Regions from separate parts of the Homo sapiens genome. Here all the other regions are linked to region 2. Evidence: fine-mapped expression QTL. A gene starts in region 2. Each other region holds a variant in brackets. All regions are shown on one strand. Distances are from middle to middle. Region 1 has its middle 34 kb from the start of PDGFB. Region 2 holds the start of PDGFB (platelet derived growth factor subunit B). Region 3 has its middle 22 kb from the start of CBX7.

Region 1 (5,217 bases), 33 kb before region 2:
ATTCTCCTGCTTCAGCCTCCTGAGTAGCTGGGATTACAAGCGTGTGCCACCATGCCTGGCTAATTTTTGTATTTTTAGTAGAGACGGGGTTTCACCATGTTGGCCAGGCTGGTCTCGAACTCCTGGTCTCAAATGATCCACCTGCCTCAGCCTCCCAAAGTGCTGGGATTACAGGCGTGAGCCACCTCACCCACCCTACTTTCATCTTCTAGATGGTGGGAAGCTCAGAGAGTTGTAAAAGCCAGGTAAAAGCAAACATTTACTCGGCTGTGTGGCAGTGAATTCTATAGGAATGTGTTTGGTGTCAGGTCAAAGAAAAATCCAATTTATAGTGGTTTAGGGAAGAAAAATAGGCGTTAATCTTTCTTCCATAACAAGAAATCAGGAGGCAGTAACGCTTGCCTTGATGATGGCAGGGCTGGATTTCCTGCAATCTCTTTGTCATCCTTATCATCTCATTACTACAGAATGGCTGCTGACCCGCCAACTGTCACATCTGCATTCAAGGCAGGAAGAAGGGAAACAAGGAAAGGGCAGTCTCCCTGGAAGTCTCTGTCTTCTGATGAGGATGAGTCCCCACTGTCACCCTCCCTGCACACCCCACAGACTTCCTCTCATGTCTCATTAGCCAGAGTGCCGTTATATGGCCACACTCAGACCCACCATCGGTCCAGGAGAATCAGATGCCCAGGACTGATGAGACCAGCCTCTGGCACTGAGATCGCAGCATTTCAGCTGGTTCCATAAGCAGACCAGGGCTCTGTTTAGCAAGAGAAATAAGGAGGGATGGCTGCTGGGCAGGGTCTGCCCTCCCAAAAATTGCCACAGGAAGCAGTTCCCAGGCATAGTCCCATTTGATCCTCACACAATCTCATAAAGCTGAGACGATTCTCTGCCAATTTAGCAGACAAGGAGACAAAGCTAGCAAACAGCAGAGCTGGCACCTAGACCCAAACCTGGGTTCCTCACCACTCTGCCGCCTGCAGGTCACCAGAGGCCTCAAATGCACGGGGCTGCTGCCGGGTGTCAGTTACATCCGCCTCACCTGCACCTGCCGTCTCTTGGCTCTGAGTGTGCAGGTCAGGGTACTTGAGTGCCCAGGTACTGACAGGTGACTGCACCATGCAGAGCTCCATGTGGCCGCTGTGCACTGGAGAGCTTTGCCCAGAGCTATGGGCTGAGCCCCTGCCATTGGTTCCTTCATCCGTCCAGCGTCTGCAGGCCCCAGGCACCAAGGCAGGCCTTAGGAGGCACAGGCGCAGATCCTGACCTCAAAGACAGACTTTGGCACCCAGTGCCTTCCTAATTCAAGGAGATCTTGGGTAGAATGTTTGAATGCATTCAGAGAAGAAAAACCTCACTTCTGGCCAGAGAGCTGCAGGAGCAGGTTTTTTTTTTTCTTATTTCTTTCCCCAACTTTTTATTGTATTTTTGTTTGTTTGTTTGTTTGAGATAGCGTCTCACTCTATTGCCCAGGCTGGAGTGCAGTGACATGATCTCGGCTCACTGCAACCTCCACCTTCCAGGTTCAAGCAGTTCTCCTGCCTCAGCCTCCCGAGTAGCTGGGACTACAGGTGCCCACCACCATGCCCGGCTCATTTTTGTATTTTTAGTAGAGACAGGGTTTCGCCACGTTTCCCTGGCTGGTCTTGAACTCCTGAACTCAAGTGATCTGCCTGCCTCGGCCTCCCAAAATGCAGGGATTACAGACGTGAGCCACTGCGCCTGCACTTACTGTGTTAAAATACACATAACAAAAAATTTACCATTGTAAGCCAGGTGCAGTGACTCATGCCTGTAATCCCAGCACTTTGGGAGGCTGAGGCAGGCAGATCACAAGGTCAGGAGTTCGAGACCAGCCTAGCCAATATGGTGAAACCTTGTCTCTATGAAAAATACAAAAATTAGACGGGTGGTGGCGTGTGCCTGTAGTCCCAGCTACTCGGGAGGCTGAGGCAGAAATATTGCTTGAACCCGGGAGATGGAGGTTACAGTGAGTCGAGATTGGGCCACTGCACTCCAGCCTGGGCGACAGAGGGAGACTCTGTCTAAAAAAAAAAAAAAATGTGCCATTGTAACTGTTTTAAGTGTACAGTTCGTAGTATTAAGTACATTCATAATGTTGCGTGACCATCGCCCCCATTGTCTCCAGAACTATTTTCATTTTGTAAAACTGAAACTCTGTATCCATTAAACGCTAACTCCGCAATCCCCCCTCCCAGCCTCTGGCAACCACCATTCTACTTTTTGTCTCTATAATTTTGACTAATCTAATTATATCATATGATGGAATCATACAGCACTGGCACTTTTGTGAATGGCTTCTTTCACTTAGCAGAATGTCCTTAAGGTTCTTCCATGTTGCAGCATATCCCAGGATTTCCTTCCTTTTGAAGGTTAAATAATATTCCATTGTACGTTGATATAGTTTGGATGTTTGTTCCCTCTAAAATCATGTGGAAATGTAGGCTGGGTGTGGTGGCTCATGCCTTTAATCCCAGCACTTTGGGAGGCCGAGGCAGGCGGATCACTTGAGGTCAGGAGTTCGAGACCTGCCTGGCCAACATGGTGAAACCCTGTCTCTACTAAAAATACACAAGAAAGTAGCCGGACACAGTGGCAGGCGCCTGTAGTCCCAGCTACTAGGGAGGCTGAGGCAGGAGAATGGTGTGAACCCAGGAGGTGGAGATTACAGTGAGCCGAGATC[G/A]CGCCACTGCACTCCAGCCTGGGCGACACAGCAAGACTGGGCAACAGAGCAAGCCTCCTTCTCAAAAGAAAAAAAAATTTTAAAAAAGTCTGTGGCGGCCGGGCGCGGTGGCTCACGCCTGTAATCCCAGCACTTTGGGAGGCCGAGGCGGGTGGATCACGAGGTCAGGAGATCGAGACCATCCTGGCTAACAAGGTGAAACCCGTCTCTACTAAAAATACAAAAAATTAGCCGGGCGCGGTGGCGGGCGCCTGTAGTCCCAGCTACTCGGGAGGCTGAGGCAGGAGAATGGCGTGAACCCGGGAAGCGGAGCTTGCAGTGAGCCAAGATTGCGCCACTGCAGTCCGCAGTCCGGCCTGGGCGACAGAGCGAGACTCCGTCTCAAAAAAAAAAAAAAAAAAAAAAAAGTCTGTGGCACCCCTGCCCCCCACTCTCTCGTGCTTCTGCTCTCACCATGCGACATGCCTGCTCCGCCTTTGCCTTCCGCCGTTATTGTAACGTCCGTAAGGCCTCACCAGGAGCAGACACTGGCGCCATGCTGGTACAGCCTGCAGAACTGTGAGCCAATGAAACCTCATCTTTATAAATTGCCCAGCCTCTGGTATTTCTTTCTAGCAATACCAAAATGGAATATCGCTCTGTCACCCAGGCTGGAGTGCAGTGGCGCGATCTTGGCTCGCTGCAACCTCCACCTCCCAAGTTCAAGTGGTTCTCCTGCCTCAGCCTGTCGAGTAGCTGGAATTACAGGTGGCCGCCACCACGCCCGGCTAATTTTTGTATTTTTAGTGGAGACAGGGTTTCACTCTGTTGGCCAGGCTGAACAACAGAGAGTTGGCTGGCCAACTCTCGAACTCCTGACCTCAGGTGATCCGCCTGCCTCAACCTCCCAAAGTGCTGGGAGCACAGGCGTGAACCACCGTGCCCGGCCATGCTTCCACCTTTTGGCTATTGTGAATCATTCCACTGTGAACCTGGGTGTGCAAATATTTCTTCGAGACCCTGTTTTAAGTTCTTTGGGGTATCTACCCAGAAGTGGGATTGCTGGGTCATATCGTAATTCTGTGTGAATGTTTCTGGGGAACCACCCTGCTGTTTTCCACAGTGGCTATACCATTTTACATTCCTCCAGGGGCGGTTTTCTAGTGAATTTGAGGTTGACTTTGAAGATAGTCAGTGAAGTACAGATGTGGAGAAAGGCACGGCCTGGATATGGAGGAGGAGGGCAGGTGACAGGCGGGGAGGCTTGGGAGGAAGAAGCCTCCCTGGGCTGACCACAGAGGGTTCTGCATGCCTTGTTGGTGAGTGTGAGCCTCGCCTGGGGTCAGAAGTCATAGAAGGTTATGAGCAAGGGAGTGGCTTGACTACTCTGTGTCAAGAAGCCTAAGGGGGCAGCAGAGAGTGACGTGGCTCATGGTGGGATAGTCCGGGGTGAGGAGAAGGAACCCCAGAGGAGTTTCTCAATGGTTGGGTCAAAAGAGAGTGAGGACCCAAAACCAAGGCCACAGAAGGAAGAAGAAAGGACAGTGAACATGGAGCTGGGTCAGCAGGGCCCGGGCTGCGGTGAGGCAAGCCAGGCACACACCCGGAGCACAACATTTTAAAACAAGACAGGATCTGACAAAGCCAAGATTAGAGTGAGGCGAGCGAGGCATTGTGTAAGTGCTCGTTTCAACTCCTGTCTTGAAGTGAAATTTTGAAATTTTGGCTCATGGTAAATTTTTTTTCTTTCTTTCTTTTTTTTTTTTTTTTTTTTTTTTTTGAGTTGGAGTCTCGCTCACCCAGGCTTGAGTGCAGTGGTGCAATCTTAGCTCACTACAACCTCCGCCTCCCAGGTTCAAGCGATTCTCCTGCCTCAGCCTCTCAAGTAGCTGGGATTACAAGCGCCCGCCACCATGTCTGGCTAATTTTTGTGTTTTTAGTAGAGACGGGGTTTCACCATGTTGGCCAGACTGGTCTCAAATTCCTGACCTCAAGTATCTGCCCACCTCGGCCTCCCAAAGTGCTGGGATTACAGGCATGAGCCACCACTCCCGGACTGGCTCGTGGTGAACTTGTTTGCATTAATTTTGATTTCTTAAAATACTGCATGAGGCTGAGCGTGGTGGCTCACGCCTGTAATTCCAGCACTTCAGGGGGCTGAAGCAGGCAGATCATTGAGGTCAGGAGTTTGAGACCAGCCTGGCCAACATGGCAAAACCCTGTCTGTCCTAAAAATACAAAAATTAGCCAGGTGTGGTGGCATGTGCCTGTGGTCCCAGCTACGCAGGCAGCTGAAGCACAAGAATCACTTGAACCCAGGAGGCGAAGGTTGCAGTGAGCTGAGATCACGCTACTGCACTCCAGCTTGGGTGACAGAGCACGACTCTGCCTCAAAAAATATATACATATTGCATGAAATGATGACTTATTTTGATCACTGAGAATTTTTGGTGCCCCTTTAACCTTTGCACCTGGGGCAGGTGTCTCACCCTTAGTCCTGTCCCCACAAGACATGTTCCATCACCTAACAA
Region 2 (5,217 bases):
TTCCACCACGCGGAGGTGGTTGAAAAAAAGGAGTCACAGATGGGTAAGGTTTGAGGGGCGTCGGGCTGACGAGGCAAAAAAAAAAGTAGGTGCTGTGGTGCTGATGGGAGGTTCTCCCTCCCTCACAGGACGCCAGGAAGGAAATGGGGCCGCTACAGAGGTGGTGAGGTGCCAGGGCCCACGGAGGGCCCACCTGTTGCGCGGGGGCGAGCACCAGGCGCTGGGTGCACGGGGGCCCGTGCGTGCCTGTGTACGTGCGTGGGTGTGCGCGCACGTGTGCTCAGGCCGCGCGTGCAGGGGCCGTGCGTGCGTTTGTGTGCGGTGCGCGCGCGTGTGTCCCGCGTGTGCACGGGCGTGGCAGAGGCGGGCGCGCGACCTGGCCGCGGTAGTGCGTGCCCGTCGCTCTGCGCGCCCGCCCGCCGGAGCGCAGCATCGCCTCCGGCCAGGAGTGTGCATGCGTGGGGTGAGTGAGCGAGTCGGGGGCCCGGGCGGGGTGGGCTGCGGAGAGCAGCCACGGGGCGCCGCCGTTCCCAGGACGCCCTGGCACCGGGCCCAGCCCCCAGGTCCCACGGCGAGGCGAGGCGGCAGCTGGGGCCGGCCGGCCACCCCCTCCCCAACAGCTGGCCGCGGCCCGGGGGGCTGCGGGAGAGGCGGAGAGGGGGCGTCGGGAGGGGCCTGAAGGCGGCCCGGCCGAGCCCCGCGTCCTCCCTCCCGGGTGCGGGCCGCGGGGGGCGGCCGCGGAAGGGCGGGGCCCCCGGGCGGGCGGCCTGCGGCCCTCGAGGAGCCCCGAGAACAAAAGGAGACGGCGACGGCTCCTCCGTGGTCAAAACAACCTGCGCTGGCGGCAGCCCAAGGCCGGGCCGCGGCCTCCGAGCCCTCCGCCTTAACCCCTTCGCCGCCGCTGCCTCCTTCCTGCGCCTGGCTGGAGGCCGCAGGGGCCGACCCTCCCCGGGAGCCGGCGAGGTGCGGGCGAGGTGCGGACTCCCGGCCGCAGCCGGGCGGAGGTGGGACGGTACCCAGTCACGCCGCGCTCCCGGCTGCCCTCTCCTCCCCTCCACCGCGCGCGTCGTCCTGCCCCGCCCCCTTTCCCACCTGGATTCCGGGTAGACTTGCCAACTCACGGCTACGTGAGGCTGGGAGGGGTGGGGACGGCTCCGACCCCAGCGCTCCCTCAGATGTTTTTATACCCCATCTCCCGTGCAGCTAGGCTTTTGCAGGCGGCGCGCTCCGCACCCTGCATGCGGGGGAGAGAGGTGCTTCCTCCTGCAGGGCGCGGGCACAGGTACGGCAAGGCCTCAGGCACACAGCGCCCCGGGGGCTGGATTCCTTCAGAGCCCCTAGTCCTCCCCCTACCCGAGTGCCCGAAACCTACCTGCGTCTCTATCTTTCTCTCCCTCTCTCTCTCCGTCTCTCTCTCCGTCTCTCTCTCTCTCTCTCTCTTTCTCTCTCTCTCTCTCTCTCTCCCTGTTACTCCCACCCCAAACCCCGCGCCCGAGACACAAGCTGCTTCCAGACCGTGCTCTGGGGCCGGGCATGCCCTGCGCGTGCCGGAGGGCGTCCACCCGGACCCCGACCGGGAGCCAGGGTGGGACCCGAGCCCCGTCAAAGGTCGGCGTGGATGGCACCGGTGCGCAAGCTTGCACCTCCTGGGCAAGCCGATGGCAGGACAGAGCCTAAGCCGAGGCTGGCGCCGAAGTGGGCTCGGGAGGACGCGCTGCCTTCTGCACCCTGGGCACCACCCCACCCCCTCTCCCCCGGCCGGGAAGGGGCTTGTTCTCGGGTTCCCAAAGGGTGGGGGACAGGGCCACACACACCCTCCCCCGACACGGAACGGCTTAGGGAGCCAGATTCGCCCGCCGGTTGGAAAGAAAGCCACCGCTGTTGCCTTCCCTTAGAGCCTGTCACCCCCGGACCTCGCTCCCAGCCCGAAGAGGTCACCCAGCGCCCGGCGTCAGGCTCGCGGGCTGCAAGGGTCCAAAGTTCACTGCAGGGAGAGGAGGGGGCGGTCAGAAGGGGGGGGCGAAGGTAATGAATGAAGAACCAGCCCCAGCCGCCGTGGCAACTCACCTCGGCGCTGACCAGACGCAGGTAGCAGCAGAGAGACAGGAAGAGCGCCCAGCAGCGATTCATGCCGACTCCGGGCCCGGCCCCGCGGGGCCCCGGACGCGTAGATCGAGCGCGCCGCCCCCGCGGCCAGGGTGGGGGGCTGGGGAGGGGGGTGGGCTCGGCTCGGGTCCGCGGCGATCAGGCGCTCAGGCCTCTGCAGCCGCGGCTCACCCGCATGGCCCCCGGGCGCCGCCGCCCCCGGCCCCGGCTCCGTCGCTGGGGGGCAGGGGAGGACCTGGGCGCAGGACCTGGGTCCGAGGCCGCTACCTGGGCGGATCCCGAGCCCGAGTGAGCATCCACGGCCGGGGGGCTGCGTCGCGAACCAGCCGAGGCGTCTAGCCGTGTGGGGGCGCCCAGGGGACTCCAACCTCCAAGAGGAAAAGGAACACGGCAGTCGATGGTTCGTCTTCACTCGCCGGCTACAGGCGTTTTCCTCTGCCCGCCGGCTTAGCTTTTTTGCAACATTTTCTGGAAAGGCCCCCAAAATCGGAAAGCGCGGAGCTGGGCACCTCAAGGCCCAAGTCTCCCCCAAAAAACTTTTTCCAAAGTTGGCTTTGCAACGGCAGCTCGAGCACCCGGGCAGGGAGAGGTGCAAACTCCCGCCCGGGCCGGGTAGGGGGGCGGGAGCGTGTGCGCCCTGGCGCGGGGCCCGGGCGGCGGGCACGGCTGCTCCGCGCGCGCGGCGTGCCCGCTGCGCGCTCGGCTGGGCCCGGCCGACAGGTGGACGCGGCGCGAGTCCGTCGGTCCGTCTGCCCGCCCGCTCGCCGCTCTGGGCGTCCTCTGCGGGCTGCGGGCTGCGAGCTGCGAGCTGCGAGCTGCGGCTGCTCCGGTTTTCTCTTTGCAGCGAGGCTGGAGGGTGGGCTTTTTTTTTTTTTTTTCCTTTTTGCGCGCGTATGTATGTGTGTGCGCGCAAAGTATCTCTATCTAGGGAATGAAAAATGGGCGCTGGCGGCCGGAGGGGAGCCCTAGGGAGGCAGCGGGGGAGGCTGCGGGTGCGCAGGGAGGCAGGCAGGCCGCTCCCGGCTGCAGGAGGAGAAGTTGCCACCCTTTCAGCTGTTCCGGCCTTTATAAAGGAGAAGGGAGAGTGCGAGAGGTGGGTGGAGACAGCCTTTCCTCTTCTGGCCCGGAGTCAGCGCCAGGAGGGGGGGGACGCGGGAGCTGGGGGAGGGCTTGGGGCCAGGGCGGGGCGCTTAGGGGGTCTCTGAGAGCCGAGCAACCCTTCAGTCCATGAATCTGGCCCTGGGGAAAAAAGAACTAGGGGTGACCCACCGTCCCGCCCCTCAGCACAGTGACCATGGACAGGTTAGGAGCCCACGTGGTCTAGGGGGATGTCTCCAGAGCCAAGGCCAGGAGTCCACGCTCCCCTCCAGGACCAGACATTTCCACCCTGGCACAGGCATGGCAGGGAGGGACTCAGGCTCTGCAGTCTGAGAGCCTGAATTCAGATCCTGCCCTGGCACTCGGGAGCTTGGGTCACCTTGGGCAAGTCACTTCCCTCTGTCCCCTCCATCTAGCCTCAACCTGGAGATGGGGCTATTGTAAGGACTCAGTGTTAGCAAGGGAAGACACCGCAAGGTGAACCCACAGAACCCGGCAGCCAGCGCCCTTCAGCTGCAAGCTGGGTCCGAGTCTCCTCCTCCTAGCTGGTTGCCTGGCACAACAGGCCCTGCCAGCGTTGGCTGAATTTGAATTTGTTGAACTGCAAAGTCACACAAACCCCCACAGCCCTGCAGCATCTTCGCAGGGCTACCAACATGATCTTCCCGTCAGTCACCCTGCTGTTTACTATCTCCCTCAGCCCCCGGGTTCGAGGCCCAGAGCCCACCCACCCACAACCAGCCTTCACACAGTTAACGCCTTCTGCCCCCAGTCAGGGAGCTGCTGTGTCCCTGCCTTCAGCAGTCACACTGTCTCAGTCACAGTCACACGTACTCACACTGGGCCCAGCACCCCCCTCGGGACACGCAGGCTCCTGCATCACCCAGCCTCCCGGCTTTGAGGCACCCTCATCTCCTCCGCTTGCACTGTCTCTGTTATCCGCCCTTCCCTTTGGGATGTCAGCCTGCTTCTCACAGAGGAGCACACTGAGAGAGTCACACCTGCTCTCTCTTCATAGACTGTCTTCTTGGACCTGGACAGGGTGGAACAGAGGAGGAAGGACATCTCAGGTGGTCTTTACAGACCACTGCAGGCACCCACCCACTGCTGCCTACCACCCAGCAGCGTGGCACAGTGGCAGAGACACAGCCTGAAGACACATCACCTTGGTCCAAATCCTGGAGTGGCCACTTGCTGGACAAGTGTCTGCAGGAAGGTTTTTTAACCTCTCAGTACCTCGGTTTCCTCCTTTATAAACTGGAGATGAATTTATAAACTGGAGCTGGGTGTGGTAACAAGCTCCTGTAGTCCCAGCTACTCAGGAGACTGTGGATCGTTTTGAGCCCAGGAGTTTGAGGCTGCAGTGAGTTGTGACTGTGCCACTGCACTCCAGCCTGGGCAACAGAGCAAGACCCTATCTCTAAAGAAATAAAAATAAATCTATAATGGGAAGGAGTGAGAGAGAACAGAGAGGCATGGCAAAATTTTAGTGGTGATGGAAATGTTTGTCATTTTTGATTGTGGTGATGGGCTTATGGGTGTATACGTACATCACAACAAAATGTGTGCAGTTTGTTGTACCTCAGTGCAGTTGTAGAGAATTTTTACCCTGCTCCTGGAGTGGTCTGGAGGCTCCCATGAGGTCCTCCATGTGGAGGCGCTCAGCAAAACACCTTAGCAGGAAGCAAGCGCCTGGAACCTTCCATGCAGCCTTCAAGTTCACTGGTGGCCCCGCACTGCTCCAGGCACTGGGGAGACAGGTGTGAACCAGCCTAATGCAGGCCCCTGCCTTTGAAGAGCCCCATTGAGAAGGACAACCAGATGTATAAACAGATAAATTAGGAGACAGGGTGACAAGGGAGATGGGGCAGCGGGACGAGGAGATAACCCCCAAACACTAGATTTGAAGTCTAACGACTCAGAGATAAAAACCCTCTTCCACCGGACAGCTGGGTCATTTGACCTTGACCTTCTGTGTCTTCTATAAATAGAATGGTAACAACTACCATGATT
Region 3 (5,217 bases), 70 kb before region 2:
CCCCACAGTTATCCTGCCTCTTCTCAGGGCACCCTTCCCTTCCTCCCATGTCTCAGTGTTGTCTTCCCCCAGCTGGGCCCTGGGCAGCCCCCTCCCTGAGCACTCCTCCACCAGCCCTCAGTCCACAGCTGGGAAAACTGAGGCCTCTAATCTGGGGGCTACTCAGGCACATGGTTGGAGTTCAGTTATCTGTGTGTCCCCCAGGCCTGGCACAGAGCCCCGCACTGGGGTGGACTCTGCAGTGGGAGATGGTGGATGGGTTCAGCACAGAGCCCAGCGCTGGGGTGGACTCTGCAGTGGGAGATGGTGGGTGGGTTCAGCACAGAGCCCAGCGCTGGGGTGGACTCTGCAGTGGGAGATGGTGGGTGGGTTCAGCTGTGCTGGAATCTTGCTCCACCACAGCATGCTGTGCAGCCTGGAGCAGGTCCCTCAACCTCTCTGAACCTCCATTTTCTCATTTGTAAAACCAGGAAGAATGAGGCCTATTTTTTAGGCTTGTAGTGAGAATTGACAAGACAACGTATGCAAAATAAATATCACAGTATAAGGTGGTTGCCATTCATTCATTCTATAAATATTGATTGAACACCTTTTTTTTTTTTTTTTTCAGATGGAGTTTCACTCTTGTTGCCCAGGCTGGAGTGCAGCGGTGTGACCTCAGCTCACTGCAAACTCCGCCTCCTGAGTCCAAGCAATTCTCTTGCCTCAGCCTCCCAAGTAGCTGGGATTACAGGCGTGTGCTACCACGCCTGGCTAATTTTGTACTTTTTTTTTTTTTTTTTTAACTAGAGATGGGGTTTCACCACCTTGGTCAGGCTGGTCTCAAACTCCTGACCTCAGGTGATCTGCCTGCTTCGGCCTCCCAAAGTGCTGCGATTACAAGCGTGAGCCACTGTGCCCGGCCTGATTGAACACCTATTATGTCTCATTATTATTAAGTTCAAAAGAAAAGAAGCCAATTCAGCAGACCCCAGATTCTGACCTCCCATCCTATGCTGTTTCCTGGTGCATCCTCCACTCCTAATCCACACGGAGGCGTCACCCTAAATTACCCGGCTGCACATATCACTACCCTGGTCAAAAGCCCCCAGCAGTTCCCCGGTGCCTAGGGTGTCAGCTCCCGACTCCTGGCAGTGACACTGAAGACCCTCTGTGATCTGGTTCCAGCCTCTTTTCCATGGGATCTCTCTATCTTGTGACACCAACTTTGACTACAGGTGTGCAGATCTGGGTCCCGTGGCCAGAACACCCTGGGCTTTCTCACTGCCACGCCTGTGCTCCTGCTATGCCCTTGAGTGGAACAGCTACCATTTTTGTCCTTACCCAACAAAGTCCCGTCCGCATTTTCTGGCCCATTTCCCCCAGGTGGCCTCTCTGACCACCTGGAGCCAGGCTCTGAACCTCAGTCAGCCTCCTCGCCTAAGCATCCCGTTCCCCACTCCCCAACCGGGCCCTGCAAGGCCAGCTCTATCACCAATCATTGGCAGGAACCACTGGGCTAACAGCAGGTGCTGGACCGATCCACATGACAGGGGATGGCCTGACCTGCCCGTGTGATCAGAGTCCAGCTCTGCCACTGTCCCACGGGGATCATTCTTATCCGTCACATTCCTAAATGGACTAGAATGGTGGCCTCCTCTGCCCTGGGACCCTACTCTCTCCAGGCAATGGAGAAAGAGCCAGGGGTCCCCCCACCACTAACTGCCCCACTGACACTGTGGGGTCTCTTCCCATAGTCACGGTGCAGGCATCAACCAGATACCAGACTAAATGGGATTATCCAGACAGGACCACTGGGCCAGAGCCTTCTGCTGGAGGGAGGGAGCTTTGCTCCTCCCCTACACCCTCCCTGTTCCAGGGCTCAGTCCCTTCCACAAGGTCCCACCAAGCCTTCACAAGCCTGCCCCGTCTAGCGATGGGGAGCCCCATACCCCCTGGGGCATCTTGTCCATCTCTGATAGTTAGTTCAGAGCTGAGCTAGCTGCCTCCACGGAATTTCTGCCCCATTCATTCATCCTCTGTGAGTTCCTTCTGCACGCATTGAGCACCTACTGGGTGCTAGTTGATGTGCCAGCTCGCCTGAGCTTTGCAACACCTCTGTGAGGTGTGAAGGC[G/A]GATGCTGATGACAGTGATGGTTACAAAACCAATGAGGAAAGTGAGGTGCAAAACCAATGAGGAAAGTGAGGTGCAAGAGAGATCGCCACCCACACAGAATCTCACAATCATCAGGCAGCGGCTGGGCCAGGAGTAGATTTTCCATCTGGGTGACCCAGGAGCCTGTGCTCTTTCTTCCACTGAACTGAATACGTCCCCTAGCAGGACTTAGGAGGGGTAATACTTGGGGAGGTGGGGGCAGGACTAGCCTATCCAGTCCCCCAAAGCCTTCAGTAGAGGGCATAGAGCTGGACCTGCGTTGGGGTTACCAAGGGTAGCCAAGGGTAGTTTTGGAGCTGCTGCAGCCGCTGCTCACCCCCGGGAGCCTCCTTCTGAGAAGGAAGTATTATTGAGCCTACATTGTGTTGGGAGGGAAAACGTGGGGTCCTTGGAGCCCTGCCAGCCCCCTGCCTTCAGGCTGTTTGGCTTTGTTTGTTTTTTTGGTCTTTTTTTTTTTTCCTTTTTCTTTGGGCTGATTGTTCTCATTAAATCTTTTTGTCCTGTTTTGTTTTTTACGGGGCTGACAATGCTGCTCAGTGCTTAGCGCGGCTTCCTGTGTTTCTGCCCCAGCGCAGGCCTCGATGGGGCTGTGCTTCCTGTTGTGAGCCGTCGCCATGGCAACTGGAGGCCTGGTGGGCTCCATGGGGGTATGGGGAGGGGTGACATCAGTGACGTCACCGGGTGAGAAGGCAAGGGGCAGGGGTCTGGAGGGGGTTGCATGGGGGAAGGGCAGCCAGCAGCCAGCCGGCGCATTGCTGGGAGCTGACTCACAGCCCGGGAAGGGGAAGAATGCCCTCACATTCTTTTGGGAGGTAAACAAGGTCAGGGAATGCGGCTGGGATCCTGTTTACCTGACCCTGGCCCCCCGGGGGACCCGAAGCCCTTACAGGACAACACACTGGAATAGAACCAGCCAGACTTGGGGGGCTAGGGAAGCAGGGGAGAAGAGAGGAACCGTGAGGGGCCCCCAGGTGGGGGCCAGAGACAGAAAGCCCAGGATTCCAATCACATCTCCACTAGGTGACAGCGTGACAGCTCTATGACTCTGAGCAAGCCACATGGCCTCCCTGTGCCTCAGTTTCCCCTATTTCTAAATGGGGAGAATTTCTCGTGCAGATGGTCCCTTGGTCTCCAATCACTTTGGGCTGGTTTCGGGGGTTGCGAGGGTGGCAGCACAGCCCGTGCCTCTGCATTTTCTCCGTTCTCCACCCGCCCAAGGCCTGATCCAAGGCTAGGGTCTCCACGTCTCTGCCTGCACCTGACCCTGCTAGGGTAATGCCCCAGACCTGTAGCCAAACCAAAGGGCCGAGGTGGGCTGGCCTCGAAGGGAGGTGATGGGCGTGCAGCCCAGGGCGGGGCGCGGCACCTCTAGGATCCCAGGGCTGGAGTTGGTGCAGCTAGCCCCGCTCTCTCCCCTACCCTGTGTCCCCCCTTCAGCTTTCTCAGAGCCCCACCTCTTATCCCTGAACCTCCAGAGTGACGGCCTCCCCTGCTCATTAGGGAGGGTCCAGAGGAGCCCCTCCTGGTGCCAATGGTCTGTATCCTGATCAAACTCTGGGATTCCATGGTGCTGAGATCTGCAAGAACAGCCCCGGGGGCAGGGCCGGACTCTGCATCTCTAAGACAAACCTTTGCCACCTTTGAAACTGACCAGCTGGGAACAACGTGCCCTTCCCCCACAGGTGCCATGTGAGGGCACAGGCCATGCCCCCATGGCCACAGTTGAGTTGGGGCCACCTGGCCTATGGCTGAGAGTCTGGGTATCAGAGTCTGACTGGCTTTGCGGCTTGCTAGCTAGGGCCTTCGGTCAAGCTCCTTAGCCTCTGTGAGCCTCAGTTTCCTGATCTGCAAAGCAGAAGCTCCCAGGGTTGATGTGAGACTGAGTGAGTTAATTCACATGAAGCCCTTAGCGCATAGTAGGCCCTCATATGTGCTGAACCCACACAGAGCCAGCCCCCACAGACCCCTGCATCCTCCGCAGCAGCACCCAATGCCCCCGTCTCTGAGGGCTCCCCTATGCTGAACACCCGTCCCAGTGCAGGAACAGTGCCCACCAGATGCCCCATGGTTTTCCCATAAAGGGACCGGACTTGGGTTTCCCTGGACAGGGAATATCCTGTTCTGGGCTGGCGGGGGGGAGGAAGAGGAGCGGGAAGGACACGGCGGCTCCGCATTCCTGGCATTCTTGGCGGCCGCCCTGTCCAGCTGCCTCGGCGCTGCCGGGGGCCCTGGCCTACTGCCATGCTGGCCCGACACGGCACAGCAGCACCCCGCTTGGGGCGCCCCTTGGACTTGGGGTGATAGAGGACCCATCTTGTGCCAGTCCCACCCATCCCAGACTATCGCAGAAGCAAATGAACCCCAACCCTGGAAGCAGAGATTCGGGGGCTCTGGGAGGAGTCAGTTAACAGGGGAGGAGTTTCTGCTTTCAGTTCTACCTTATGGGGCTCCCTAGCCCACCTACCGTTCCCCAGGGAAGCTCTCGGGGTCAGAGCCGGAAGAGGGGAGAGGTAGAAGACTCCTGGGTTCTAGTCTCCAGTGCCCAGACAGCCACTTCCCCTCTCTGGGACTCAGTATCTCTGTCTGCAAGATGGGAGACTTTGATCCCTTCCTTGGGCAACCCCAGCATTGCTGCCCTTGTCACGCTCTATGGCATCATCACTGCCTCTCTGCAGAGCCTGTGCCTCTGGCTAAGGGCAGGAGCCCATCCCTTCTCCGCACTGGGCCGGGCCTGGTGGGATATAGTGGTTCCCACCGCCACGCAGCCATGGTATGCAGGATTCGAACATTCAGAGGGGAGGGCCTGGGGGCGGTCAGGCTCTGGAGCCCTCACCCTGGGAGTGCCTTTGGGGTCCTAGGAGGAAAGGGGTCCTTGTCCAAGATCCCACAGCTAGCTCGGTCAAGCTGACCCGGGAATCCGGGGACTTGCTGTTCTGCAAAACCACCAGAAACTAGGGTAATTCTTTTCCATGTTTTTCTGCAAACGCCCCCTAGTTTCAGGCCCAGAGCAGTCTGGGGAGAAGCTGGGAGCTGGAGGCTTCAGAGACCTCCACTCTGCAGGAG

The links. PIP is the estimated chance that this variant, and not a neighbour inherited with it, causes the effect.
Region 1: its variant is fine-mapped to the expression of PDGFB in whole blood (TOPMed, PIP above 0.99).
Region 3: its variant is fine-mapped to the expression of PDGFB in whole blood (TOPMed, PIP 0.96).

Annotation. Positions count from the first base shown.
Region 1 is chr22:39,208,860-39,214,076 of GRCh38, forward strand. No RefSeq gene overlaps it. Among named protein-coding and RNA genes, the nearest start is that of PDGFB, 34 kb to the right of the region's middle. RefSeq lists enhancers at 520-1,020, 4,203-4,822, 4,823-5,217. The variant G/A (reference allele first, on the strand shown) is at 2,708.
Region 2 is chr22:39,241,834-39,247,050 of GRCh38, forward strand. PDGFB (platelet derived growth factor subunit B) reads right to left here and starts at 3,149. Exons shown (of 7, transcript NM_002608.4): 1 at 2,068-3,149. The coding sequence starts at 2,130. RefSeq lists a silencer at 1,204-1,283.
Region 3 is chr22:39,172,026-39,177,242 of GRCh38, forward strand. No RefSeq gene overlaps it. Among named protein-coding and RNA genes, the nearest start is that of CBX7, 22 kb to the left of the region's middle. RefSeq lists enhancers at 1-478, 1,491-2,160, 4,159-4,453. The variant G/A (reference allele first, on the strand shown) is at 2,115.